2 separate regions of the Homo sapiens genome follow, and region 1 is linked to region 2. The links come from fine-mapping of genetic effects on plasma protein levels. A gene starts in region 2. The other region holds a variant in brackets. All regions are shown on one strand. Distances are between the middles of the regions. Region 1 overlaps GBP3 (guanylate binding protein 3). Region 2 holds the start of GBP2 (guanylate binding protein 2).

The links. A credible set is the group of variants that fine-mapping cannot tell apart. PIP is the posterior inclusion probability: the model's chance that the variant is causal. Protein levels are from antibody-based Olink assays in UK Biobank. Linkage for the fine-mapping came from a reference panel and not from the study's own genotypes, which makes the PIPs less certain.
Region 1: its variant is the best candidate, but not a certain one, in a credible set for the plasma level of the GBP2 protein (UK Biobank, PIP 0.57).

What each region holds. Positions count from the first base shown.
Region 1 is chr1:88,995,936-89,008,944 of GRCh38, forward strand. It overlaps GBP3 (guanylate binding protein 3), which reads right to left. Exons shown (of 11, transcript NM_018284.3): 11 at 10,745-11,917. The coding sequence ends at 11,789. Among named protein-coding and RNA genes, the nearest start is that of RBMXL1, 9.8 kb to the left of the region's middle. The variant A/G (reference allele first, on the strand shown) is at 9,435.
Region 2 is chr1:89,112,498-89,128,350 of GRCh38, forward strand. It overlaps GBP2 (guanylate binding protein 2), which reads right to left and starts at 13,617. Exons shown (of 11, transcript NM_004120.5): 1 at 13,366-13,617; 2 at 9,280-9,486; 3 at 8,646-8,773; 4 at 7,682-7,791; 5 at 5,080-5,276; 6 at 4,495-4,737; 7 at 1,519-1,799; 8 at 1-187. The coding sequence starts at 9,469. LOC112268267 (a long non-coding RNA gene) reads left to right here and starts at 5,281. Exons shown (of 2, transcript XR_007066213.1): 1 at 5,281-5,545; 2 at 6,414-12,734. RefSeq lists a silencer at 9,169-9,463.

The DNA.
Region 1 (13,009 bases), 120 kb before region 2:
TGCCTGTAATTGTTTACTGACTACTATTCTAGTTGATTCCCAAAGGCATTCCGCTTTCCTTTTACATGGGTCTTCCAGGTGACAATAGAGGAGTGAGGGAGGAAAACAAGTTGGAAGATAGTAGCAATGCCTCATTATCTGAAAATGCTGCTGAAGAGGTATCTGTGACTTCTAGGTACTAAGAGTCAAGGAGGCAGGACTACATTTTCCTTTATCTTATAACCCTACAGTAGTACTAAGAAGGACTGCTCTAGGAAACAAGACAACTAAGTGTGGGGTTGTAAGTTCCTAAAGACTTTTCCACCTTATAATCCTGCTCTAGAGAATTATGTTCAGTTTTCAGTCTCACGTAAGTATTTTAAATGCAATATTTATGTGTGTGTATTAGAATATTAAACTAATGTTTCCTAGCCAGATAATAATAGCTATACAAACATTAGTTCAACTATTTCAAAAACCATAATAGAAATTGTACACTTAACCCATGGAAAGGCTGATCAGGGTAAATGTGTGTCTCATTTATCTGTTGTCTGTCTATTCACATACACGTTTGGCTGTATTGATAGCAACTTAACTGTTAGAATTTGTGATTTGAATCAGTCAGATAGTCTTTACAGTCTTTGAACAATTTTTAAAAAGGGAAAATGAATTTTGACTTTACAAATCAGTTTGGCGCAGAATATACATTCCTCTCATCTGCACATGGCACATACTCTAAGGTTGACCACATGCTCAACCATAACGCAATTCTCAACAAATTGCAAAAAACTGGAATAATACCAGCCACACTCTAGTACTACAGCACAATAAAAATAGAAATCAATACCCAGAAGATCTCTTAAAACTATAAATTACATGGAAATTAAACAGCCTGCTCCTGGGTGATGTTTGGGTAAACAATGAAATTAAGGCAGAAATCAAAAAAGTCTTTCAAACTAATGAAAACAAAGATACAACATATCAGAATCTCTGGAACACAGTTAAAGCAGGGGTAAGAAGAAAGTTTATAGTGCTAAACGCCTACATCAAGAAGTTAGAAAGATCTCAAATGAACAACCTAACATCACACCTACAGGAACTAGAAAAACGAGCAAATCAACTCCAGAACTAGCAAAAGAAAAGAAATGACCAAAATTGAGCAGACTGAATGAAATCGAGATGCAAAATCCATACAAAAGATCAATGAAACCAAAAGTTGTTTCTTTGGAAGAATAAGATTTAAAGACTATTAGATTAATAAGGAAAAAGAAGATCCAAATAAACACAATCAGAAATGACAAATATGACATTACCATTGACCTTACAGAAAAAAAAAATACCCAGACACTATTATGAACTCCTCTGTGCACACAAACTAGAAAACCTGGAAGAAATGGGTAAATTCCCAGAAACATATAACCTCTCAAGAATGAACTAGGAAGAAATTGAAATCCTGAACACACCAATAATGGGATCCAAGTTGAATCAGTACTAAAAAACCTACCAACAAGAAAAACCTGTGGACCAGATGGATTTACAGCCGAATTCTACCAGATGTATAAAGAAGAGCTGTCAATAATCCTACTGAAATTATTCCAGAAAAATCAAGGAGGAGGGACTCCTTACTAACCCCTGAGGGTCAGCATCAGTCTGATATCGAAACCTGGCAGAGACACAGCAAAAAAACAAAACTTCAGCCGGGCGCAGTGACCCACGCCTGTAATCCCAGCACTCTGGGAGGCCGAGGCGGGCGGATCACGAAGTCAGGAGATCGAGACCATCCTGGCTAACACGGTGAAACCCCGTGTCCACTAAAAATACAAAAAAATTAGTCGGGCGTGGTGGCGGGCGCCTGTAGTCCCAGCTACTCGGAGGCTGAGGTAGGAGAATGGCCTGAACCCGGAAGGCGGAGCTTTCAGTCAGCCGAGATCCAGGCACTGCACTCCAGCCTGGGCGACAGAGCAGGACTCCGTCTCAAAAAAAAAAAAAAGAGAAAACTAAAGGCCAACATCCCTGATGACTACAGACACAAAAGTCCTTAGCAAAATACTAACAAATCAAATCCAGCAACACCAAAAAGCTAATCCACCATAACCAATAGGCTTTATTTCTGGGATGCAAGGTTGGTTCAAAATATGCAAATTACACATAAAAACTACAATGAGATATCATCTCACCCCAGTTAAAATGGCTTACATTCAAAAGACAGGCAATAACAAATGCTGGCAAGGGTGTGGAGAAAAGGGAAACCTCGTACACTGTTGGTAGGAATGTAAATTAGTACAACTACTATGGAGAATAGCTTGGAGGTTCCTGAAAAAAAAAAAAAAAAAAAAAACACAAAACAACAAAAACTAAAAACAGAGCTACCATATCATCCAGGAATCCCACTAGTGGGTAAATACCCACAAGAAAGGAAATTAGTATATCAAAGGGATGGCTTCACCCCCATGTTTATTGCAGCAGTGTTCACAATGCTGGCCCAAAGATAGTGCTAGATGCTTCATGCCAGTTAGATCCCTAGAGCAATGTTAGGAATATTAATCAACACCAGCTTTTCTAGGTCTTTAAAGAAGGGATACTGATGAAATCCTTTGTGGGGAGTAGAGGGAGAAGATTCTATTATAAATAGCACAAGAATATAAATAATTATCAAACTCGTGAAATAATCAATATGATGTTTAATAATTGTAAACTTTCAGGGAGAAGTGTTAGGAATGGAGTTGGGATAATAAAGTGTATATAAGATGTTCATTCATTTAAAAAAATTATTTATTATATGTATATGTGCCTGGCAACCTTTCTAGACTCTACTGATGCTGTGAGGAACAAAAAAGACAAAGACCCTGCCCACTGGACCTTATTTTCTAGTAGGGAGGGGAGACAGGCAGTAAGTTTGAACAAACTCATCAGTAATGTAAGGTAGTGATTAAATATTGTGAGGAAAAATAAAAATTCTGGCCACTAGATGGTGCTCATTGCTTTCTTAATTTCTTTCACTTACCCAGTTCATTCAACTGGGTAGGGATGCTGACTGCATGTTGCTCTATTAAAGTTGTGTTTGGGGCCAGGTGCAGTGGCTCATAACTGTAATCCCAGCACTTTGGGAAGCCGAAGTGGGAGGATCGCTTGAGCCCAGGAGTTCAAGATCAGCCTGGGCAACATAGCCAGGGCTCATATCTATTATTATTATTATTATTATTATTATTTTGAAGTTGTGTTTGGGTCAAAGTAATAGGTTCTTTCTTTTCCCGTCTCCCTTCTCCCAATTTTGATTTGTTTAAATTTGTTTTTTATTTTTTAGAGACAGGGTCTCATTGCTGTGTTGCCTAGGCTGGAGTGCAGTGGTGGGATCATAGCTCATGGCAGCCTCGAACTCCTGGGCTCAAGCAGTCCTCCTGCCTCAGCCTTCCAAAGTGCTGAGATTACATGCGTATGCCACCATGCTCAGCTTCCTTAGAGATTTCCAAGGATTTTTTTTGTTTTGTTTTTTGTTTTGTTTTTGTTTTTCTTAAGAGGCAGGTCTTGCTCTGTTGCCCAGGCTGGTCTCGACTTCCTGGCCTTATGCAATCCTCCCTCCTTAGCTTCTCGAGTACCTGGGACTATAGGCACACACTACCATGCCCTACTGGATTTCTCTCTTTCTTTCCTCCCTCCCTCCCTCCTTCCCTCCCTTCCTTCCTTCGTTCCTTCCTTCCTTCCTTCCTTTCCTTCTTTTCTTTCTCTCTTTCTTTCTTTTCTCTAATTAACTGATAAGGTGAAATAGGGCTAAGACATACTAAAGAGCTGTGTGAACTATCTTGTTATAGGGGGATTAGATTAACTCCTTCCTAAATCATAGATGTGCTCTCCCCTCAATTTCCTGGGTATTTAATTTTCTTTCATTTGTTTAATATATGTATTCAGCATAGACTTTAAGCTCTTTAAGAGAGAAACACAACCATGTTTCCTAGTCCTTGGCGGAGAATCTTGTAGATAACAACTATCTTGAATGAATAAATTCCTCTAGCCTAAGCAATTGCTGTTTTCTATGTAGTCTTACCTAACTTCCTAAAAGGACTGTTTTAGAGTTAGACTGGGGGGGAAATCTATATAATAAAACATGGGAGAACATTAAAGTTAGTCTTTGTTAAGGCTAACTCTAGAAAGAAGGTCTTGAGCCTTCTTTTCTATTGTGAGTAGAAGGAGCATTATAAGAACTACAGGGTGATGGAATCTAAGGAGATACAGGAATTGTGATCCATCCTGACAGTCTCTTGGTCTTAGAGTAGTTTTAATATACAGATCCTGTTCATGCTTTGTTAGATTTATATCTATTTGTTTCCTTTTTTTGTAGCTATTGTAAATAGTATCATTTTTAAAATTTTGGTTTCCAGTTTTTCTTTGCTTATATATAGAAACTGTTGAAGGTTGATTTTTGTGTGCTGACCTTGTATCTTTTGACTGTATTAAATTCATTTATTAGTTCTAAGAGTTTTATTGTAGATTACCTGGGATTTTCTACATAGGCAATAATGTTGCCTGCAAATAAGGACAGTTTTATTTGATGCTTTCTGATCTATATGCCTTTTATATCCTTTTCTTCCCAAATTGCACTAACACTTCCATTGTACTAACAATTCCGATGTAATGTTGAATGGGAGTGGTGAGAGTGAACATTCTTGTGTTGTTCCTAGATCTGAGGGGCAAAAGATTCAGTGTTTCATCAAGTATGATGTTAGCTGTAGAGTTTTTGCAGATGCCCTTGATCGGTTTGAAGAAGTTCATTTCCACTCCTATTTGCTGAGTTTTCATATGAATGACTGTCATATTTTATCAAGCTTTTTCTTTATCTATTTATATAACCATGTGATTTTTTTTCCTTCTTTAGACTTTTAGTGTGGTGAATTACACTAGTTGATTTTTGAACTGCTTTACATCCACAGGATGAATCCCACTTGATTGGTGTGCATTATTTTTCTATATTGCTGGATTTGATTTGTTAATAGTTTGTAGAGGATTTTTGCATCTATGTTTATGAGGGATAATGGTCTGTAGTTTACTTTTGTACTGTATTTGTTTAATTTTGTTATCAGGATGATGCTGTGCTCATAGAATGAATTGGGAAATGTTCCCTTTTATATTTTCTGAAAGAAATTATTAAGAATTGGAATTATTTAAAAAATGCTTAGTAAGGTTTGCCAGTCAAGAGGAACTATCTGGATGTGGAGATTTGTTTTTCAGATTCTTAACTTTTTTACTCCATTTCAGTTTCTTTAGAAATTATATGACAGTTCAGGTTATCTATTTTAACTTGGGTGAGTTTTAGTTGCTTGTTTGTGCTTTTTTCAGAAATTAGTCCATTTGAGTTGCAGAAGTTATACACATAGAGTTGTCAGAATGTTGAAATGTTGATTTTTAGTTTTACTATTTAATGCATCAAAGATTAAAAGTATTTCTTAAATCTTGATGTTTTTTAAAATTTTTTTGGTAGAAACACTTTATTTGGCTTTGTTGATTCTTGAGCCTGGTCATTTGTAAGACTGATTGGACAGGTTTCACTGAGGGATTTCTGCCTTTTTTTTTCTTTTTTTTTGTCAGGATCTCAGTGTTTGATGTGCTCCTTCCCTGTGGATCAGAGGAGCTTGTATTTCCTTTCACTAAACTCAGAGAAGGAAAACTAGCAACTTATTACTTAAACAAGAGAAGAAATACTTCTGTAAACTGAAAATATTTTTGGCACAGAGACACATACCATACAGGCCAGCAATTTTAGGCCTTAAGCTATGGTAGCTTCAGCAAACAGGAAATGAATAAGGGAAACCTGAAGCACCTTGTCATACAGATAGTGAGAAGGCTACAGGGTCATTCCAAAAGGATTCCAGAGCCAACTTATTCAGGCTCCCAATGGCCAGTACTCCTGGTTGTAGATCCAGGAACAATGCAAGAAAATCATAGCATTGCATTGCCATTTTCTTGTCATTGTTGCACTCAATGACACTCTCAGACCTACTATGTCAGAAAGTCAGAGGAAGGGTAGGGGCCAGGGAATCTTTATACTTAATAAGGTGATTTTAATGCATATCAGGATTGAGGAGCACTGGTGAAAGCAACATGCCTCCTTGGACAGTGAGCTTTATTTGATTCCTGGAGATATTAAAGAAAAGCACTAAATCAGAAGTCAGATGATATGGATTTGGGTCAGGACATTGATGCTACCAAACTAAGGAGGAAGTAACTTAATTTTGCTGAGTTTATAGTAGCCTTGAATGATCTTTTGTATTTCAGTGGTGTCAGGTTTAATACCTCCTGTTTTGTTTGTTAGTGAAGTTATTTGGATTTTCTCTCTTCTTTTCTTAGTTAATCTTGCTAATGGTCTATCAATGTTATTTTTCTTTTCAAAGAACCAGCTTTTTGTTTCATTTATCTTTTGTAGTTTTTTTCAATTTCATTTATTTCTCTGATCTTGGTTATTTCCTTTCTTCTGGTGGGTTTGGGTTTGGGTTTGGTTTGTTCTTGTTTCTCTAGTTCTTTGAGGTGTGAACTTAGATTGTCTGTTTGTGCACTTTCAGACTTTTTGATGTAGGTGTTTAGGGCTATGAACTTTCTTCTTAGCACTGCCTTTGCTGTATCCCAGAGGTTTTGATAGGTTGTGTCATTATTGTCATTCAGTTTGAAGAATTTTTTAATTTCCATCTTGATTTTGTTTTTGACCCAATGCTCATTCAGGAGCAGGTTATTTAATTTCCATGTATTTGCATGGTTTTGAAGATTCCCTTTGGAGTTGATTTCCAGTTTTATTCCACTGTGGTCCGATAGTGTGTTTGATATAATTTTAATTTTCTTAAATTTATTGAGGCTCATTTTATGGCCTATCATGTGGTCCATTTTGGAGAAAGTTCCATGCACGGTTGAATAGAATGTGTATTGTGAGGTTGTTGGAAGAAATTTTCTGTATGTATCTGTTAAGTCCATTTGTTCCAAAGTATAGTTAATCCATTGTTTATTTGTTGATTTTCTGTCTTAATGACCTGTCTAGTGTTGTCAGTGGAGTATTGAAGTCCTCCAGCATTATTGTATTGCAGTCTATCTCATTTCTTAGGTCTATTAGTAATTATTTTATAAATTTGGGAGCTCCAGTGTTAGGTGCATATATGTTTAGGATTGTGATATTTTCCTGTTGGACAAGCCTTTTATCATTATATAATGTCCCTCTTTGTCTCTTTTAACCACTGTTGCTTTAAAGTTTGTTTTGTCTGATATAAGAATAGTTACCTCTGGTCGCTTTTGGTGTCCATTTGCATGAAATGGCTTTTTCCACCCATTTACTTTAACTTTATGTGAGTCCTTATGTGTTCGGTGAGTCTCCTGAAGACAGTGGATAGTTGATTGGTGAGTTCTTATCTGTTCTGCAGTTCTGTATCTTTTAAGTGGAGCATTTAGGTGATTTACATTCAATGTTAGTATTGAAATGTGAGGTAATCCTTGCGTTCATCGTACTCTTTGTTGCCTGTGTACTTTGTTATTTTTTTGTTTTTGTTTTTTGCTTTTGCTTTTTACCTTGTATTTTTGTTTTGTAGGTCCTGTATGATTTATGCTTTAAAGAGGTTCTGTTTTGGTGTGTTTCCAGGCTTCGTTTCAAGATTTAGACCTCCTTTTAGCAGTTCTTATAGTGGTGGCTTGGTAATGGTGAATTCTCTCAGCAATTTTGTCTGAAAATGACTGTTTCTTTCCTTTACGTTTGATGCTTAGTTTTGCTGGAAACAGAATTCTTGGCTGATAATTGTTTTGTTTGAAGAGGCTAAAGATAGGGCCGCATTGCCTTCTGGCTTGTACGGTTTCTGCTGAGAAATCTGCTAGGTTAGTCTGATATGTTTTCCTTTATAGGTTACCTGGTGCTTCTGTCTCACAGCTCTTAAGATTTTTTTCCTTCATCTTAACTTTGGATAACCTGATGACAATGTGCCTAGGTGAAGATCTTTTTGTGATGAATTTCCCAGGTATTCTTTGTGCTTCTTATATTTGCATGTGTAGGTCTCTAGCTAGGTTGGGGAAGTTTTCCTCAATTATTCCCCCAAATATGTTTTCCAAGCTTTTAGAATTCTCTTCTTCCCCAGGAACACCCATTATTCTTAGGTTTGGTCATTTAACATGATCCCAGACTTCTTGGAGGATTTGTTCATATTTTCGTATTCTTTTTTCTTTGTCTTTGTTGGATTGGGTTAATTCAAAGACCTTGTCTTTGAGCTCTGAATTTCTTTCTTGTACTTGTTCAATTCTGTTGCTGAGACTTTCCAAAGCATTTTGCATTTCTAAAAGCGTGTCCAAAGTTTCCTGAATTGTGGATTGTTTTCCTTTAAGCTGTCTATTTCATTGAATATTTATCCCTTCACTTCTTGTATCATTTTTTTGGATTTCCTTGCATTGGGCTTCACCTTTCTCTGGTCCTTCCCTGATTAGCTTAGTAACTAACCTCCTGAATTCTTTTTCAGATAAATCGGGATTTCTTCTTGGTTTGGATCCATTGCTGGTGAACCAGGATGATTTTTGGGGGGTGTTGAAGGGCCTTGTTTTGTCATATAACCAGAGTTGGTTTTCTGGTTCCTTCTCATTTGGGTAGGCTCTGTCAGAGAGAAGGTCTAAGGCTGAAGGCTGTTGTTCAGATTCTTTTGTCCCATGGGGTGTTCCCCTGATGTAGTACTCTCCCCCTTTTCCTATGGGTATGGCTTCCTGTGAGCCAAACTGCAGTGATTGTCGTCTCTCTTCTGAGTCTAGCCAGCCAGTGTGTCTGCCCAGCTCTGGGCTGGTATTGGGGGTTTTCTGTACAGAGTCCTGTGATGTGGACCATCTATGGGTCTCTGAGCCATGGATACTAAGGGAAGAAAACACCCCTCATATTGTCTTATGCCCAATTTCTGCCTCCAAAGAAAGAAGAAGTAAAAATTAAAAGGCAGAAATGAAATCCACAAGCAGACAGTTCAGCGCCACACCCTGGGCCTGGTAATTAAAGATTGACCCCTGACCTAATTGGTTATGCTATCTACAGATTACAGACATTGTATAGAAAAGCACTGTGAAAATCCCTGTCCTGTTCTGTTCCGTTCCGTTCTAATTACCAGTGCATGTAGCCCGCAGTCATGTACCCCCTGCTTGCTCAATCAATCACGACCCTCTCACGTGGACCCCCTTAGAGTTGTGAGCCCTTAAAAGGGACAGGAATTGCTCACTCAGGGAGCTCGGTTGTTGGAGACGTGAGTCTTACCAAAGCTCCTGGCTGAATAAAGCCCTTCCTTCTTTAACTCAGTGTCTGAGGGGTTTTGTTGGTGGCTTGTCCTCCTACAATACCAGTGCCTGTTCCAGTGGAGGTGGTGGAGGGTGAAATGGACTTCATGAGGGTCCTTGGTTTTGGTGGTTTAATGCTCTATTTTTGTGCTGGTTGGCCTCCTGAAAGGAGGTGGCACTTTCCAGAAAGTATC[A/G]GTGGGAGAGGGACTGGTGGTGGGCAGGGTCCTAGAACTCCCAAGATTAAATGACCTTTGTCTTCAGCTACCAGGGTGGATGGAGAAGGACCATCAGGTCAGGGCGGGGCTAGGAGTGTCTGAGCTCAGACTCTCCATGGCTGGATCTTGCTATGGCTGCTGTGGGGGATGGGGGTGAGATTCCCAGGTCACTGGAGTTGTGTACCTAGGAGGATTATGGCTGCCTCTCCTGAGTCATGCAGGTTGTCAGGGGAGTGGGAGAAGCTGGCAGTCACAGGCCTCACCCAGCTCCGATGCAAACTGGAAGGCCGGTCTCACTCCCACTGTGCCCTTCTCCCTGCCAACAGCTCTGAGTCTGTTTCCAGGCAGAGGGCAAGAGGGGCGGGCTTAAAATTTGGCTGAGGCTTTCTGCTCAGCCAAAAAGAAAAGGACTTTAGTTCTTCACCAGCCTGTGAAGTTTGCATGCTGGATTTGTGCCCTCCCCGAGTTCTGGCAGGAGGCTTCTCGCCCCATTCAAATTGTTACAAAGTTTGGTTGGAGAATTTCTTCTTTCTGTGGAGTTTTACCTGTTGCTCCTCTGGCTGACCTCCCGATAGATCCCTGTGGTGCCAGGCAGGAATGGCCTGCCTGGGGACACAGTGAGCTCCCAGGGCCTTCCAACTGCTTCCTCTACCCCTGTATTTTGCTCGGCTCTCTAACTTGACTCAGCTTCAGGTAAAGTCGGAAACTCCTCCTGCACACAAACCTTCAGCTTCTCCAGTGGGGGTGTGTGTTCCAGAGAGGAGGGTCTCCCTTTCCCACTTCTGCAGTTGGGGCAGTCAGAATATTTGGAGTGTTTCCTGGGTCCTGCAGGAGCAGTCTGCCTCCTTCAGAGGGTCTGTGGGTCCTCTTGGGATTCATCGTGTAATATTTTGAAACACTACATAATTATTTCAAGATTCTAACATATACAATCTAATCCTTATGATTCTTATAAATGTAAGTAAAATAAGGCAGATATAAAATGAAACTTTGACCAATGTTTCTATAAACAAAGGTCTGCAAACTATAGCTTGTGTGTGCCACCTGGTTTTGAAAATTAAGTGTTATTGGCACATAGCCCCACCCATTTACTTATGTATTGTCTATGGCTGCATTTGTACTGTATGCAGAGTTTAGTAGTTGAGACAGTTGACCTGCAAAGCCATAAATAATCACTATCTGGTATTTTACAGAAAAGTTAGCCAACCACTGCTATAAAGACTCAAACCTTATTATTTGGTGAAAAACTAAAAAAAAAAAAATGGAAATAAAAAAACTAGTGAAACTTATTTTATTTCTAGTTTAGTTTATTTCTAGTTCAAAAATAATCTGTAATTGCTGTAAGAAATGTCAACCACTTACCTAGGATGTTTGACAATTGGGATGAAGTCTACATATACTAAGTAATGGCAAGACAATTATTTTATTGCTCAAAAGAAAGTCAAAAAAATTCCATATTCCCTTTGGGGAAAATTGGCAGGATTTCAAGTATGACCTTTAAGAATCAGGAAAAGACTAACTTATGCTTTAGGATTAAAACAATCAAATAATTAAATTAGTTCAATTTTCTAACATAGTCTCTATCTTCAGTTAAAGTGCATCATTGCATGTTATACATTACTAAAATTACACAGTGCATAATTGTTACCATGTGACTATTTAATTCAGGGTCAACTGTCTAAAGGTCTCAGGTGTCACATTAAGGTTATAATCTAGATGAATTGAACAAGAAAGAAAAGATTTCTTCATTAGCCAATTTGTTTATGATTCAATTCCTACTCTTGCTAATGATTTCTTTACCTTCCTATGGAAAATATAAGATTCTAGATCTCTGTATAAGATGGTTTGCTTTAGCTTGAGATCCATCAGTGAGAATTATCCATGGGCAATGTCCAGAAATCACATTATTGCTCATAGACCTTGTAGCCTTGATATAATGGAGAACTGTACACTGTCTTCCCTAGGAAGCTAGGATGGTTGTTTCTGATATTGGGACCCATTGTACACTTGGCCAAACCAGTGCCCAAATATGTCCCAAGATTTTTACCTAAGACTTTCCTCAGTATCCACTGGTCGTCTGGAAGAATAAACTTCTGAGTGGTGGCAACTCATGATCCCTCCTCTGTTGGTACAGAGGTAAATGCATCTTTGTTGCACAATTTACAATCTTTTTAAGGAAAAAACATGATTTTGATCATTGAACTGCATGTTCTTGTAAACTTTTAGTGTTATGATGCAAGATCTAATTATTATCAAATATAGTGACACTTGTTCCAAATTCTAAAATTGTTTCAGTTATGCCTTGGGTTAGGATGACAGAAAAGCTCTGTTGTTTAGATCTTTAGCTTATGCGACATATATCTCTTGGTTTTTTTTTTCAGGGTCTTCTGTAGCTTTTGTATCTCATTTTGAAGTTGGGTACTTTCACCTTGGCATCTCTCCTTTAGTACTCGGGCCTGTTCCTAAAAAGGGACAAATGGAGGCTAAATAAGTGTAGCATTAAGTAAATCTCTGTAAGCTATCTAGTTTCCACATGCATTGATTTATTTAGTACTTAGTTTTTTTCTTGAAATTTTCTCTACCCTTGATTTTAATTATAGTTTTTCTGGGCATTTGGGCTGTGTGATTATTTCTCCTGGGTTTTCTATAGCCAAAAGAGTTTCAGCGTATGCCTTCTGCTCTATTGATGAAGGTCTTGCTTTTTTCCCCCTATTAATTATACAAAACCTTTGTGGGAAATCTTAACAATATATTTGACTTCAAATCTTCCCTATGCATTATAGACTTTTTAACACACCTACCTACACACATATTATTATTATATACACATAATACAGAGATAAGTTACTCTCAAAATCTGATTAGGTATATGAATCTTAGATCAGGAAATTTGATCTAAGTCTCTACTCCCTGTTGGCAGGGGTAGCAGAAGATAGGCAAGGAAATCCGAGTGCCAGACTTACCATATAGAATTTCTGCACATAGCTCCCAACTCAACACAAACTGTGAGTAGGGCACAGAAAACAGGCAGGAGTGGTAGACTGCCCTACAGGTGTGAGGGTTAGGGAGTCCTTCTGCTCATAAAAGTTCTCTTAGAGCCAAAGTCATACTAGATGGGATAGAAAAAATATTACTATGGATTCCACTAAGTGATGAAGATGGGTCAGATATTTACTAGCTGTGTGACACTATAAAAGTTATTTAATATTTTCTGAACCTCTGTTTCCTCTCCTAAGTAATAGGGATAAAGTTCTCGCTTCATATGGTATTAAGCAAGAGATATAGATAAGGCATTTTTATGATGCCTAGCATATGACAGCCGTAAGTGGAAGGATACACTAAAACGGGACTGAATGTGACACCCTGCAAATAAACTTTTAGTGACCACATGTAGGCAGTGGCCATTTCAAGTCAGACAGACAGAAACAAGAAAGTACAAGTGAGCAAGCAAAATCCTTCCCCTGGGCTTTATGTTCGCTCTGCCATACTAAGTTTGTGATCAGGAAGAACAGAGAGAAAACAGAAAAACGAACCACAAGGTGATGCATTTGGAT
Region 2 (15,853 bases):
AGTACTTATTCTTCAGCTCCTGCAGCTTCTGAGTAAAGAGACGGTAACCTCCTGGTTTAGAAAATGTTCCCTGCTTGACATCTTCTTCTAAAGGGCCAAATATATCCTGAAGTAAAGCCATGCAACAATCTGATGATGCTTTGGAATTCTGCTTACAAAAGTCATCTCGCCTTGCTTCCAACTGGGCCTGTGAAGTGACAAAACAGCACAGATGTTTCAGTAAAGCCATGAGGAGGATGTTAACTATGTGGAGACTGGAAAATGCTTCTCCTTCAGAAATTGTGGCCCTCTAAATAGGGCCATGCTCCTCACATTGCTGTTAGATCCTAGAATATCCCTAAGTTGTGCTTATTGCAGAAATTTATCTACTTCTCTGTTTGTGATTTCCTAAAGCTCCTTTCTCCCAGTTTTCCTGTTTCAGAGAATGATTCTCAAAGCACATACACTATTTCATACGAAACTTTTATCTTTCCAAGTCTCTCATTTCAGGAATAGTTCTGAGCACAAACACTGGAGTCAGGCAGCCTGCCTGGAGTTCCCGGATACACTACACTGTGGCTTGTGACACTCAGTCTTTGTGAACTGAGGATTCCTTGTCTGTGCAGCAGAGGAACAATACCTATCTCACAGATTTCTCTGCAGGGTTATATGAGGTGATGTAAAGTATTAAGCCCGGGGACTTTTTAGAAGTGCTCAGTAAGGAGTACATGATTATTTAGTACATTCTTTAACATAAGAATATTTTTGTGTATTTTCTCAGCATAGGGCTAATGAAAGTAATGAAGATTGTGCCATAGGTATTTTCAGTATTTGGAAAGTCTCATAGAACAGCACATTTATCTACATTAAATCACTCAAGATAACTTAACTATGAAGCTTTCTCTTTCCTCCTTAGGTTGGAAGGGTGACAATTGCTGACATCGGCTATCTAGCTTCACCAGAACCTCTGACTGTAGCAACGTATCATTTATAAGATCCTGCCTTCCTAGCTAGGGAAAGGACTTTCATTTGTCAAGTGGTCATTCTGCATGCAAAAATACTTTGTTCACTTGGAATGAGGCAGACATTAAAAACATTCTCTAATAAAATTTATATAATTAATTTCTCTTTCTTGGCCTTCTGAATATTTTACCATTGGCTCACATTTAAAAAAATTATTAGGGTTATTTAAAAATAATTTAGTCCCCACTGATAATTACCAGGGAACATAAAAACAATGTATTTTTTAATTTAAAAGGACAAAATAAGTTAAAATAGTCTTTAACAATGCAGTTGTACCATCTACTTACTTTCTTAAAATATGGGACCCAGAGAGGAAAAACTAACAAAAGCAAATTTTAGTAAAAAATTAGGTGTCTTTTTTTAAAGGTCTAAGGCTATGCACATTCTAGTCTTTTAATGATTATTTCAAATATGTACACATAACTGAGTGTAACTATTTTGGGGTCTAGAAAGAATTATTTTCCCATGAAGGGCCCATATTTTTCTGCCTCTCATGACGTAGAACACCAAATATACCCCTAATTTCCTCTGGAACATTTGGTCCACATCCTTGAAAGAGTTCTTCATGAAGACTTCAATGGCCTCTCTCTCACTGTCCCTGTGCAGGTCCAGCAGCTCCTGGAGGGTTTCCGTGGGCAGCTGCACCTTCTGGCCCATCTGCTGTTCATAGTGGGCAATAGCCTTTTCCACTGCGGCTGAGTTCTCTATCTGGGCCAAGGCCAGGACTGCGTTCTCCATGCAGGGTAGATCCCCACTGCTGATGGCATTGACGTAGGTCAGCACCAGGCTCTCTAGACCTGCAAAAGGGAATTTTTAAAAAAATGTGACTATCAGTTGGTGGGACAGAATATTTTGTGTGCTTTTCAAGTGAGTGTCACAAATAATACTTTTAAATAAGTTTTGGATAAAGAATAGTAATGGAATAATTTGTTAACCTCTAATCACAGAGGAAATTGAAGTGGCTCTTTCCTATTTCCTTCACCCAAAAGGAAGATATTGAAATGAATAGGTTAGGATATTTTGGGGCTGAGATACTAGGTCAATGTGTTTTCTTACCTTTCTTTTCTCTCACCTCTCCCTCTATTCCCTTTCTCTCTTCACTACTAATTTATGAAAAAAGTCAATGAGAAAACTTAGCCTTTTTATTTTTATTAATTTTAGTGGTGCAGACCACTAGTCACTAGTCTGGTGTCTGGCTTAGGTAAATATGTCTTCTTAGATATTCTCTCATCAGAACTACAGATAGGATAATCAACTCATCGAGTTTGCCAGGGCTTTGCTGGGTGTAGCACTGAAAGTCTCACATGCCAGGAAAACCTCATCTTAGGCAAACTGGAGTGGTTGATCACACAACAAAAGATGATTCTTTTTGACTCAATCCTGGACCTTCTCATCTCTCTGCGGTTTTAAGTACCATCTGTATGGATGGCTGGTGTATTTTGTTTCCTGCTTTGACATTTCTTTTAAGCTTTGGATTAAAAATAAGTTTTGCACCTTATTTTTAATGCCTATCTTATATTCCTTACTGCATAAATCAGAAGAATCTCAATATTAAATAATCTAAATATCAAAACTTCATCCACTCTGAAAAACTATTTCTCCTCTTGATGCTACTATCTCATTAAATAACACAGCCATTCAAGCAATTGCTAAACTCGAAACGCTGGAGACAGGCTTGGCATTTCCTTCTTATTCCCTTCATAAATCCATATTCCCTCTATCAACAGGCCTTTTAGATTTAATATCCAAAGTATGTTCGGATCTTGTCCATTTTCACCATTTTCACTGTCATAATCTGAGACTAACCCAATGCCCATTTATGGCTCAACCACTGCAAATAGCATCCATCCTCTCATTCCCTCCCTTTCACTACTCCAACAAATTATCTACAAAATATTCAGAAAGATATGTATAAACATAAATTAGATAACCTTACCTCACTGCCAAAAATTCTTCAAGATCTTCTCTAGAGCTTAGACAAACTCTAATCTCCTCAAAGTCCTCTGCCAGTCCTTTCAAGACCTGACCCCTTTATACCCCTCCAATTATGACACCACTCTTATTCAGTCTTCTCTTGTTCCAATCGCCTGTCTTTCTTCTATTTTCGTTTAAAAAATTGAGATGGAATTCTGGTCTGTCACCCAAGCTGAAGTGCAGGGCATGATCATAGCTCACCATAGCCTTGAACTCCTGTGCTCATGCTGGGTCCTCCTGCCTCAGCCTCCTGAGTAGCTAGGACTCTGGGCAAGCACCACTGCACTTGGCTGATTTTTAATTTTTTCATAATGATGAGGTCTTGCTACTTTTCCCAGGCTGGTCTTAAACTTAAACTCCTGGGCTCAAGGAATTCTCCCACCTTGGCCTCCCAAAATGCTGGGATTACAGGCATTAGCCTCCTGTGTTCTATTTTCTTGAAGTTGCAAAGTTCTATCCTGCCCTATGCATTTCCACATTACATTATTTGCTATAAAGCTATTCCTCTATATGCTTTGGTTAGCTCTTAACCATTTATTTAATATATATATATATTGGAGACAGGGTCTCACTCTGTCTCCCAGGCTGGAGTGCGGTGGTGCAGTCTCCGCTCACTGCAACCTCTGCCTCCCAGGCTCAAGTGATCCTTCAGACTCAGCCAGCTGAGTAGCTGGGATTACAGGTGTTAGCCACCATGCCTGATTAATTTTTGTGTTTTTAGTAGAGGAAGGGTTTCCCCATGTTGCCCAGGCTGGTCTCAAACTCCTGAGCTCAAAGTGATTCACCCACCTCAGCCCCCCAAAGTTCTGGGATTATAGGCATTAGCCACCGTGCCCAGCCAACTCAATCATTTTTAAGTTCTCATCTTACAGGTGACTTTCACAGACAAGCATTCTCTCACACTCTAAATTATATCTCCCTGCCTCTCCCTTTACTCTTTCATAGCAGCCTATTATTTTTATGCATTGTGTTAACCACTATTTATCATTATACTTTTTTTTTTTTTTACTTTTTACAGAAGTATCTTTTGCTCCTATTATGCTGGAATGAGGATAAAAGTCACATTTCTTTTATCCATCATTATACTCAGTGGTTGGTACATTACATTATAGGCATTCCCTAAATATTTTAGAATTGCTGAACAAGAGAATTGTACTGCAGTTAGTTAGTGGCAAAGTCTCACTTACATATAGTATTTGCTTTTTTCTTTGTTGCTCAGTATATATATCCTGGATGTTTATTTGATAAAGAGGGAGCTGAGAAGTTGGTGGAGAAGTTTACCATAATAGAATTCAATTCTAGTTCTTTTCTTTTTTTATTCTCCTTGCAAGGAATATGAGATGATACTATAGCTTTAGTTTTCATGTAAAATTTATAATATGATTTTCATGTTGTATTTTCCTTGCCATCAATAGACTATGCATTTGTCAGAAGTGACCCTTATGCTTTCCATTTTATCCTCTACAATGGGCAGAAGGAGAAAGTCCAGGTAGGAAGTGGGTAGAGAGAGTGACTCACGAGGCCCATTGACTGGAATGCCACCTGAAAGAGTCTTGACATTGGAATGGCTGAGGATGTAGGAACAAAATTCTGCAACTTGTTCTATGAAATCAGGGTTCAGCTCTTCCTCCTTTAGCTGCTCTAGGTGAGCAAGGTACTTCTTAGGAGCGGGCCAATCGAAGACGAAGCACTTCCTCTTGGGGAAGAACTTTCGGATGCACAACCGAGGATCATTAAAGCTTTTACTTTTCTTATCAGTACCTACAGGAATGAAAATTAGAAGTAGTAAAACTTCAAATTAATTACTTCAAATATGATCTTTCAATTTTATAATTTTCACAAAGCCCATGTAAGGAGGAAATTTATTAGGAAGAAGAAATAAAAAATTAAAGGGGTAGAGAAAGGAAAGTCTCCAAGAAGAGGTAGGTAATGCAATTTAAAATTGGTTCCAACTGATATAGTCAAGCAATGTTTCCATTTCCTCTAGCAGAACAGTCAGAAAAATACAGTTAAAAATTATAATTTTTAGCACTGCACAGAAATGGTTATTTTGATATTATTTGCTCTCTATTTATTACCCAACCAAGCATCAGACCCAGTAACCTTTTCTTAGCTTTAGCGAAAGCTCCAAGTAGTCATCAGCAGTGATGGGTTCTCCATCTACTTCCAGTTCCAGGGTGAAATCTCTGAGAGTCCACACAAATGCTGGAAAAAAGCTCACAAAGTCAGCTGAGTCGTCTACAGAATTGTTACCAGGTGAGGAGTTTGCCTTGATTCGATCTGTCAGCTCTGTCACATAGCTGAGATGCTAAATTAAGAAAACTACAGAAAATGCCACTCTTTATACTACATTTTATCCTAATGCTTACCTAAAATAATTTGGTTTCTTTTTATTAGCTCATTCATTCATTCACAAACATTTATTTACAGAATTCATTCACTCACAAACATTTATTGAGCACCTACTATGAACCAAGCACTGCCCTAGGGACTAAGAACGCTGTAATGAATGAGACAATGCTACCACTATAGAGCTTACATTCTAATGATGGAGACAAACAATGAACAGGTAAACAAAAATAAATTATCAGGTATTGATAACAATTGTCTTGAAGGAAAACGAACTGGGCAACTAGCTCCTAATGTATTTTTAGAAACTAGCAACCAATAGACATTCATCTAATACTCTGGTGTCTCCCAAATCTACCAATAAGGAAAGCAGAGAATAATTGTGTGTATCTGCATGTGGTGCTGGTTCATGTAGTTTTCCAGGTAAATTATCTCTGACATTGTAGTTGAGCAGTGATCTGAATGAATTGAAGAAACCAGTCATGTACAAATCCAATGGAGGAACATTGCAGACAGAGATCACAGACCCTTCAAGGCCCTTAGATAGGAAATTACTGAGTGTGTACAACATATATCAAGAAATCCAGTGTGGTAGGGCAGAAGCCTTAAAATAAATAGAGGTTGGGATATGCAAGCTCTGTAAACCAAAGTAAGAAGTTTGAAATTTAATAGAAAGTTAATGGGAAGTCATTGGTGGGTATTAAGTGAAGAGAGGATATAGTATCGTTTTTTGTTTTTTAAATCATACTGGCTGGCATTGCATCTGTGAGTCAAGTGTGTATGCCAAAACAAACAAACAAACAAAACTAATACAAAAAGCAATTAGGTAGTTGAAAAGATAACCAAGATGAGAGGCAATGGAGCAAGTAGTGAGAATTGGCTAGTCTAGAGAAATAACTTTGATAGTGGAGCTGAAGGAGTTTGATGATTAATAATTTCCAAAACATAAGGAATGGAATCATCCAAGATGATTCCTAAGTTTTTGATCTGAGCACTTCTATGAATGATGTGGGAATTTATTGTGATTAGAAAGACTGGGAAGGAGTTGTTTTGGACAGGAAAATTAAGTTTTGTTCTGTACACTTTAGGCTCAAGATGTCTCTTACACATCTGAATGGAGATGTTGCACCAGAAGCTGGATACAAAAGTTTGAATTTGCTCATGCTTGGGAATACAGATTTGATGGTGATAAACATATTGGTGCTACTGAAAGCCTTGAAGCTGGATGTGATCATCTGGGGACTGAAAGCAGAAAAAGAAAAGAGGCACAAGAACTTAAGTGTTATAATATTTAGAGGCTAAAAGGAGAAAGAGGATAGAGTAATCTGAAAAAGTCTACCAATAAGGAAGGTGGAAAATTAGGAAATGTGGTATTCTAATAGGAACCAATTCCAAGTGAAACAGGCATTTCAGAAAGGTGGAAGGGATCAAATTTATGTAATGCTCCTAGAGAAATAAAAGGCTTATGGAAGATTGGAAGATCAAATGAGGTGAGAACTGTGCATTACATATAGGAATATGGGGGTGATCTTGATGAAATCTAATTCAGTATAATGCTTGAAACTAAGCTAATGGAAATGGTGAGGTCATTGATAATGAACTAGGTTAAGTAATGTGTGAGAGTGGAGAATGACAATAAGGGTGGAGAGTTCCAATAAGGTGATGGAACTGAGACACCAGGGTGTTAAATAATTGTCTATTGGTTGCTAGTCTCTAAAAAGACACTAGGAACTAAAATCTTTAATGAATGAAGGATGTATTTATTGGAACGTTGCTAGATAATTGCAACAAAAATAGTGGTGTAGTCTGAGGGCATATATATTAAAGAAGATTCTCTTTTTAATGGTAAAGGAATGAGAAAGTGTCCAGAACTCTAATATGGAGCAAGGAGGATACCTAACTCATCTCTTACACTTATGATATGCAAGGTATGGGATTAAAAATAGTCATCACATAAGACCACTGGAGAGGTCTGTAGGAGAAATAGTATCTATAGTGTATAGCTAGGTATCATTTAGAAGGCAACACTTAGAGCAGATGATAAGAATATAGAGAGTTGCAGAAGTGAGAACATGAGTTCTAGAGGACATTGAAGGTTTGGACAGGCATAGGAGATTAAGTCAGATAGAGGATATACAGAGTCTTGGGTGGCTGAGTATCTAACGAGACATGTAACTGGGAAGACTTGAAGTTCAGATGGAGATTGAGATAGAATGAGATGTTCAGCATAATGAGATTTATTAAAGAGAGGACTTATGAATTCTTCAGTACCTGTCTGTCTGCCTCTGTACTTGGTGAAAAAATGAAGCTGTTATTTTCTAGGTTTACTGCTGTTCTGGACCACAAAAAAGGATACTGAAGTTGGTCCATGGCCTGCTGGTTGATGGTTCCCATGCTATTGTACACGAAGGTGCTGCTCAGGAGGATGGCCAAGGCAAAGATCCAGGAGTCATTCTCATTGTCACCCTGTAAGTCATTGTAGAAGCCACAAAGAAGAATGACTAGCAGAATGTACAATCAATTCAGATAGCTGAAGACTGACTGAACTCCAACTCTGTCTCTCATTAGTTCTGAAAACTTAGGTAACTCACTTCCTTATGCAGTATTTTTTTCTACCTGTAGAACAAATTTATAATATTTATGATGTATAATTTAAGGTGTTATATATAAATATATGTCAGCAGGAAACACATGAGCACTTGGTAGGAGAAGCTATTTTGATCAGCTACTAAAATTCAAACTGGTACCCTAAACTTAGTTTATGACCCTATTCCATTTCCATGGCACATCATAGTAAGATATTTTTTACACAGTAGTTAAAATAAGCTCCTTTAATAAAAGCTTTCTATGTCTAAGATTTATAACAGTAGTAATATATTATCCTTAATGAGCAAAGATGTTATCATTAGATTTTACACTTTGCTTCTCTTTCTACTGGTGCTGGTGTGGATGTGAACATTTTTACTACCTTTGTGGGATCCCACTGTAAAAAGTCAGACATGTTTGTAAAACGTCTACTGAAGTTTATAAGCACCTTCAGCAGCCTCACCAAAACATTTTACTATAATATGAAAGAGAAATAACTGAAAACATCATTAGCCATTATTTCATAGGTTTACCCATAATTAATCAATTGAACTTATTGTGTACTCTGAATGCTTATACCACACAAATTTTAAGAAATAATATATTAATATAATTAACTAGAGCCCTAAATCAAGGAGTAGGAGTGATTGTGCAAAGATGGTTATCGATCTGACCTGGTTTATGTAGATTTTAATCTACCTAAGTGAAATTTTTAAAATACTTATTTTTTTTACCTTCTCTATATCTCCCAGGCCCTCAGTGTCGAGCAGAACTAGGGTGTGTTCTGGCTTCTTGGGATGAGGCACACACCACATCCAGATTCCCTTGGTGTGAGACTTCACTGTGGAGCCTAGAGAGAAGCCTGTAGAAGGAGAGGATAAAAGGGAAAAGAAATTACTTAGTAGGTGTTTCTGGAAATTGAGATAAAAGTTAACATAATTGAAGTTAAAAGAGATAAAAGAAAATACAACTGGCATAAATCTTAATTACAATCCTGGAAACAGGAAAATTAGATATTTAATACACACTGAAACATTCATATTTTTCTTAAAGTTCATTGAAAGCTTGCTGTCACTACATGAACATTTTAATAAATGTTTTATAAGTCATTATTATAGAAGTTAATTTTCTTTATTAACATTGTGTTCCTTCCAGAAAGGCACATTTATACCCTTAGTATAAAATAAAAGTAAAGTGGGAAGAGTCAGTTGACTGTAATCCTCCAAAGTCAATGTAAAGAGCCCATTAATGGACTGAAAGTTAGCTTTCAACATTCATTCTCATCTCTTTCTATGCTCACATCCCTAAGCTGGATGTTCGCCGTGTGTACGGACAGAAGGGGCTTAGAGCTTTGCTGGTGTCACTCACCGTTTTTCTTCCCAGCCAGCTTGTTCATCAGGTAGGATTTGCCTGTGCGATAGAGGCCCACAATCGCCACCACCACCACAGGCTGCGTAATTGCAGATAGGATCTTCAGAGCTTCTGGATTCACCACCAGCTGCCCTTTAGTGTTATCAATGAGGCTCATTGGGCCCGGCAAGTTGATCTCTGGAGCCATGTCCAGGGTGTTGTTCCCTTGTGTGCAAGGAAAAAGATGAAATGGAAAGCAGTTTTTAGGTAGTTAGCTATGCTGAACTTTACAATATGGGTTAAATTTTTGTTTTCTATGCTTGAACATTTTTTCATATACGTTTTTTAAAGCCTGGTTTCTCTTTAAGGCTGTCTTACAAATTGGGTCACTGGCTTTCTTTAAAAATAACTTTATTTTGAAATACACTTACAGAAAAGATGTACAATGGGTATGGAAAGTTCCCATATATCATTTCCCCTAAAGTTAAAATTTTCCATAACCATAGAACAAGGATTTTAACATTGGTAGAGTGATAACTAATTTACACTCCTTATTCACATTTCACCAGTTTCCCACTAATGTCCTTCTGCTCCATGACCCAATCCAGGATTCCTCATTGCATTTAGTCATTATGTTTCTGTATTTTCCTTGCATCTTTGATAGTTCCTTATTCTTTCCTTGTCTTTCATGTCTTTGACATTTTAGAAGTTGACTGGCTATGATTTTGTAGAATATCCCTCAATTTGGGTTTTTTGATGTTTCCTTATTATTAGATTGAAGTTATACATTTTTTTTTGCAAATGTCACCAAAGTGATGTTCTGCCATTTTCAGTGTCTTGTATTAAGGGATTCATGATGTTGACATGACTTTTTCTGGTGCTGTGACCTTAACTTTGATCACTTGGTTAAGGTGTTCTCTGCCAGGTTTCTCTACCACAAAGTGTTATGTACCATTTTGTCACTAAAAAGTACCATTTGAAGAGACAGTTTGAAGACTATGCAAATAAAGATTCATCATACTTCCATAATTTTTTCAGTCACTATTTTTAGCATCTGTTGATAATTCTTGCTTATAACTTACTGTGATGTTTGACTAAAAGTAATTTTCTATTTTCATTCCTTCTACATTTATTAGAGTTCTAATGTGAGCAAGAACTGCCCTTTCTCCTCTATTTATTTTATTTACTTATTTAATCATTTAGTTGTATCAGTGTAGATCTATAGTAGATCAGTGTAGATTTATCATATGGGTAACACTTTACTATCACTATTTATCTCATTGCTCAACTCGTCCCAGATTAGTTCACTGAGAGCTCCTTCAAGCTGTAGCCCAGGTACTATGGACGTGCTTCCATCATATTTTCAGTGCGTCTTTCCTTCTGACATTACAATATATGCCAGGCTTATCTAATATTTTTTCTGCTTCAGCCTTAGAATCGACCATTTCTCCCAAGGGCTCTGGTTGCTTTCATTGGATAATGGTAGATAGACAACAAGATTATCACACTAGGTGTAGTCATTACTTCTAGGCCCTCTCAGGTGGAAAGTTAAGAAATCTATGTTTATATACCAGCACATGAATACACACATCTACATTTATTTCTCGTCTATCTGTTTCTATATATAAGCTTAAGTTTCTTCTGATATTTCTAATTCCAATTCAACAAAACAAAACTTATTCATGTTTTCCCCTTGTTTTTAAAATCTTTTCTCTGAGTGTGTCATTATACATAATAAATTTAGTTATTTGCTCAATTCTAGTACATATAATTTGTTTTAAAGTTACTAACTCATAAGTGTTTGAAAGATAAATTTGCTAACTAGAGTGCACTATTAGTTAAAAGTTCTTGTCTTTGGTCTTACACATACAGTCAAAACACTGTATTCCAAAGTTGCTTAGACTACTATTTCCTTCTCCATTCTCTTTGGTGTAGTTAAATTATTTATTTGTAATATAGTTAGGTTCATTTGTTGGTTGATTTTAAGTATGCATTTATTTTTGAGTATGCGAAATATCAGAGTTCTGAAAGTCAGAGCTTTACAACAAGCTGTAGTCAGAGAAGTGTCACTTTCCCTTCATCTTGGCACTGCATTCCCATTCCATCTGTCTTTCTATTCTTTCCACTTCATGCCCACTTATCCTCCATAGATATCCAATCTTGTTAGTTTCTAGTTTACCTTTCTTGGACTTTTTTTCATTAATGAGCATATACATGTATATTTTCTTATTCACATTTTCCAACAAAAAGATCACATCACTTAGAAATATGGGAGTCTTTCCCTATCAGTTCGTAGGAAGATTTCTCAATTCTTTTGACAGGCATCTACTCCATTTATGTGGACATAGCACAGTTTATTCAACCGTTCTTTTATGTATAGACTTTTAGATTGTTTCTAATATTTAGCAATTACAAACAATGCTGCAATGAAAACCTCTGCTAACCTTGTGAGTGTTTATTTTTATATTGCTATAGGAGTAACTTTAGGATAGCATCCTATAAGTGAGATTGCCAGGTCAAAAGGTAAGAGCATTTTATTTTGTTGGATATTGCCAAGTTCCTCTCCAGAAGGATGTATCAGGTTGAATTCCCACCAGATCATCTTGTATCTCACTGTTCAGAAAATGGATTTTTTTTCTAGATATGTCACATTTTCTGACTTAATTACAAAATTTTCTTTGGAAACTTTTCACATTCACGTTTAGATATTTGGACTGAGCAAAGCTGAGCTCACTAAGCTCATGTACACAGTAATAGGAACTTTTACCTGGGGAATCTTGTGTCATACATATCTCCATACTTTGAAACATAGATACCATTCTAACCCAGCCTTGGTCCTGATTTCTTCCAAGCCCCTCTACGGACAGGGTCTGGTCAGACTGTGGGACTCAGGTTACCCAGTGGCTTCTTCCTATCACTATGCAGGAAGCCCTTTGAGCTACCACAGGACATCACTTGTTCTTAATATTTGCTGTGAATCAGCATTCACCTGTTATTCACTCAAGCTTGGTATCTCAAATCTGACATGTAGAAAATCTGCTGATTTTTTACTCAATTATGTTACCAGATTTTAACCTCTCTGTGTTTTAAGACTGATTCTTTATCACCTGCATGTATATCAGTTTGCATATTGCTTTCAGTTATTTCAGGTAATGAAGCCAGCATCAGGAAACATTCTCTGATGAACCAGGGCTTGTTTTTTTCTGACTTCTGCTTCATGGAGAGCAGTATATACACAATTGTAGGCATATCCTGTTTAACCAGGCCTTGATAATTTGATAATTTTGTAAATTTAAAATGAGCAAGAAGCCTTCCTGTAGTAACATCTTAATTTGTGTTTTTGCCTTGAATGTCTCAATCCCTGTAACTTAAAATGATCATGATATAACATTTATAACTTCTTTAACAAACAATCATAGACTGTAAGCATTACAGCTTTCCTTCTTCTATAATAAAGAGTGCTTTGTTTATAATATGGAGTCGATTACTTCTGACTTGCTCTGATGAAGGCTTATATCTAATTATCTGTTTCCCATCCCTTCAGGGGACAATGGCAAAAAAACTATTTTTCTGTGGTCAGGACCCATTTTCTCTTACAACAATGGCTCACAGACACTTCTGGCAAGACTTCTGTTTCATTTTATAGCATGATGTAAACCACCTTAAAATGGGAATCAATCAATGACTGACTCAGAAAAGTAGCTGCACAAAGACTGTATAAGCTCCCTAATTATAATAACGTGTTCCCTCTCTTTGCAGATCCCAAGTTGCCTACCTTCATTTACCTAGAGCTCTACAAGTGGCAATAATGAATGTGATGGAGCCCTAACTTTATTAAGCAGATACTAATAATGATAAAGTTAATTTAAGATAGTGTCAAGAAAGAAATAACAATTTAGAAACATTCCCATCTCTCTATGCTGGAGACTAGTTCACAGCAGGAGCAGAGAGCACTAAGGAACCTGCAGCCACTTGATAGGGCCAGGATAGTATGTGGACTTGTGTCCCACAGCAGGCTCAGCTGCGGCCTGTTGTGGGAATGGTCAATTTAGATAAAACTGATGAACCCTGGTAAATATTTTCCCACCCCTGCCCCAGTCTTACCCAGATCAGAGATCCTTTAGCACTGGAAAGAAGGTTGTTCCAATGTGAAAGTCGAGTCCTTTTCCTCCTCTCTTTTCTTCCGAGTTTGGCTGCACTGCTTTCTCCCTCTTTTTTCTCTCACGGTAACTGTGGACTTTTACTTTACCCCTCCAACGTCCTGGGGCTTCCTCCAACGTCCAGGCTCTGTCAATGTCAGAGACCTGACGAGAGACAAGAAAAAGAGGTAACCTCTGCAAAGAAATGCACTAATATGAAACAAAGTATCAACTAAAGCAGTGACTCATTCACCATAAAAGGAATTGTTGACAGCTGTGCTGGTAAGAGGGTTTGTCATGATTTCTCAACCAGGAACTTTCCACTTTATCATTGGAAAAGATCTTAGAGACTGCTTGCTATATTAAGTTTTAAAAACCCCTTCATTGGGTCATTTAAAATAGTGCTATTTATCTCATGTTTGTGGGCCAGTTTGAGAAGCATGTGGATGAGAAAGCCTCATATAATATTTTCTTAGGTCCAATTACCTTGAATATTAGCTTGAGCACTGTTAAGTGCCCTGAGGGAATATCTATGTCTTATATACTTTTGAATTATCAGCACCTAACCCAGGTCCTGACACTTAACATTTAATAAATAATAAATAATGATGAAGGTAACTCTCATTTATGGCACACTTGATACAGACACAGTGATAACTTCTTTATATAAATCATACCATTGTATTCTTATTTTGTATTTGTTTATTTTTTAGAGACAAGTTCTTGCTCTGTTGTCCAAGCTGGAGTGCAATGACAATCATAGTTCACTCTAACCTCAAACTTCTGGGCTTAAGTTATCCTTTTGCCTCAGCCTTCTGAATAGGTGGGACTACAAATGAGGCATCATACCAGCGTGTGTGTGTGTGTGTGTGTGCGCGCGTATGTGTGAGATATGAAGTCTTACTATGTTGTGAGGCTGGTCTCCAACTCCTGGTCTCAGGCGATTGTTCTGCCTTGTCCTCCCAAAGTGCTGGGATTACAGGTTTGAATCACTGCACCCTTCCCCCTTGCATTCTACAGTAATTTCACCACAATGTTACCAAGAAATTTAACAACTTGTTAATATTACAAAGCTACCAAGTAAGGTTTGAACCCAAGTCTTCCTCTAAAACCCATATTATTGTGTCCGGAATTGGTGGGTTCTCGGTCTCACTGACTTCAAGAATGAAGCCGCGGACCCTAGCGGTGAGTGTTACAGCTCTTAAGGTGGCGCGTCTGGATTCTGTCCCTTCTGATGTTTGGATGTGTTTGGAGTTTCTTCCTTTTGGTGGGTTGGTAGTATTGCTGGCTCAGGAGTGAAGCTGCAGACCTTCGCGGTGAGTGTTACAGCTCTTAAGGCCGCGCATCTGGAGTTGTTTGTTCCTCCCAGTGGGCTCGTGGTCTGGCTGGGCTCAGGAGTGAAACTGCAGATCTTCGTGGTGAGTGTTACAGCTCATAAAAGCAGCGTGGACCCAGAGTGAGCAGTAGCAAGATTTATTGCAAAGAGCAAAAGAACAAAGCACCCACACTGCGGAAAGGGACCCGAGCGGGTTGCCAATGCTGGCTCCAGCAGCCTGCTTTTATTCTCTTATCTAGCCCCACCCACATCCTGCTGATTGGTAGAGCCCAGTGGCCTGTTTTGTCAGGGCACTGATTGGTGCGTTTACAATCCCTGAGCTTGATACAAAGGTTCTCCACCTCCCCATCACATTAGTTAGATACAGAGTTTGGACACACAGGTTCTCCAAGGCCCCACCAGAGCAGCTAGATACACAGTGTCGATTGGTGCATTCACAAACCTTGAGCTAAACACAGGGTGCTGATTGGTGTGTTTACAAACCTTGAGCTACATACAGAGTGCCGATTGGTGTATTTACAATCCCTGAGCTAGATACAGAGTGCCGATTGGTGTGTTTACAATCCCTGAGCTAGACATAAAGGTTCTCCAAGGCCCCACCAGAGCAGCTAGATACACAGTGTCCATTGGTGCACTCACAAACCTTGAGCTAAACACAGGGTGCTGATTGGTGTATTTACAATCCCTGAGCTAGACATAAAGACTCTCCAGGTCCCCACTAGACTCAGAAGCCCAACTGGCTTCACCTAGTGGATCCCGCACAGGGGCTGCAGGTGGAGCTACCTGCCAGTCCCCTGCCGTGCGCTCGCATTCCTCAGCCCTTGGGTGGTCCATGGGACTGGGCGCCATGGAGCAGGGGGTGGTGCTTGTCGGGGAGGCTGGGGCCGCACAGGAGCCCATGGAGTGGGTGGGAGGCTCAGGCATGGCGGGCTGCAGGTCCGGAGCCCTGCCCTGCGGGAACGCAGCTAAGGCTCGGTGAGAAATAGAGCGCAGCGCCGGTGGGCTGGCACTGCTGGGGGACCCAGTACACTCTCCGCAGCCACTGGCCCGGGTGCTAAGTCCCTCATTGCCCAGGGCCAACAGGGCTGGCCGGCTGCTCCGAGTGCTGGGCCGCCAA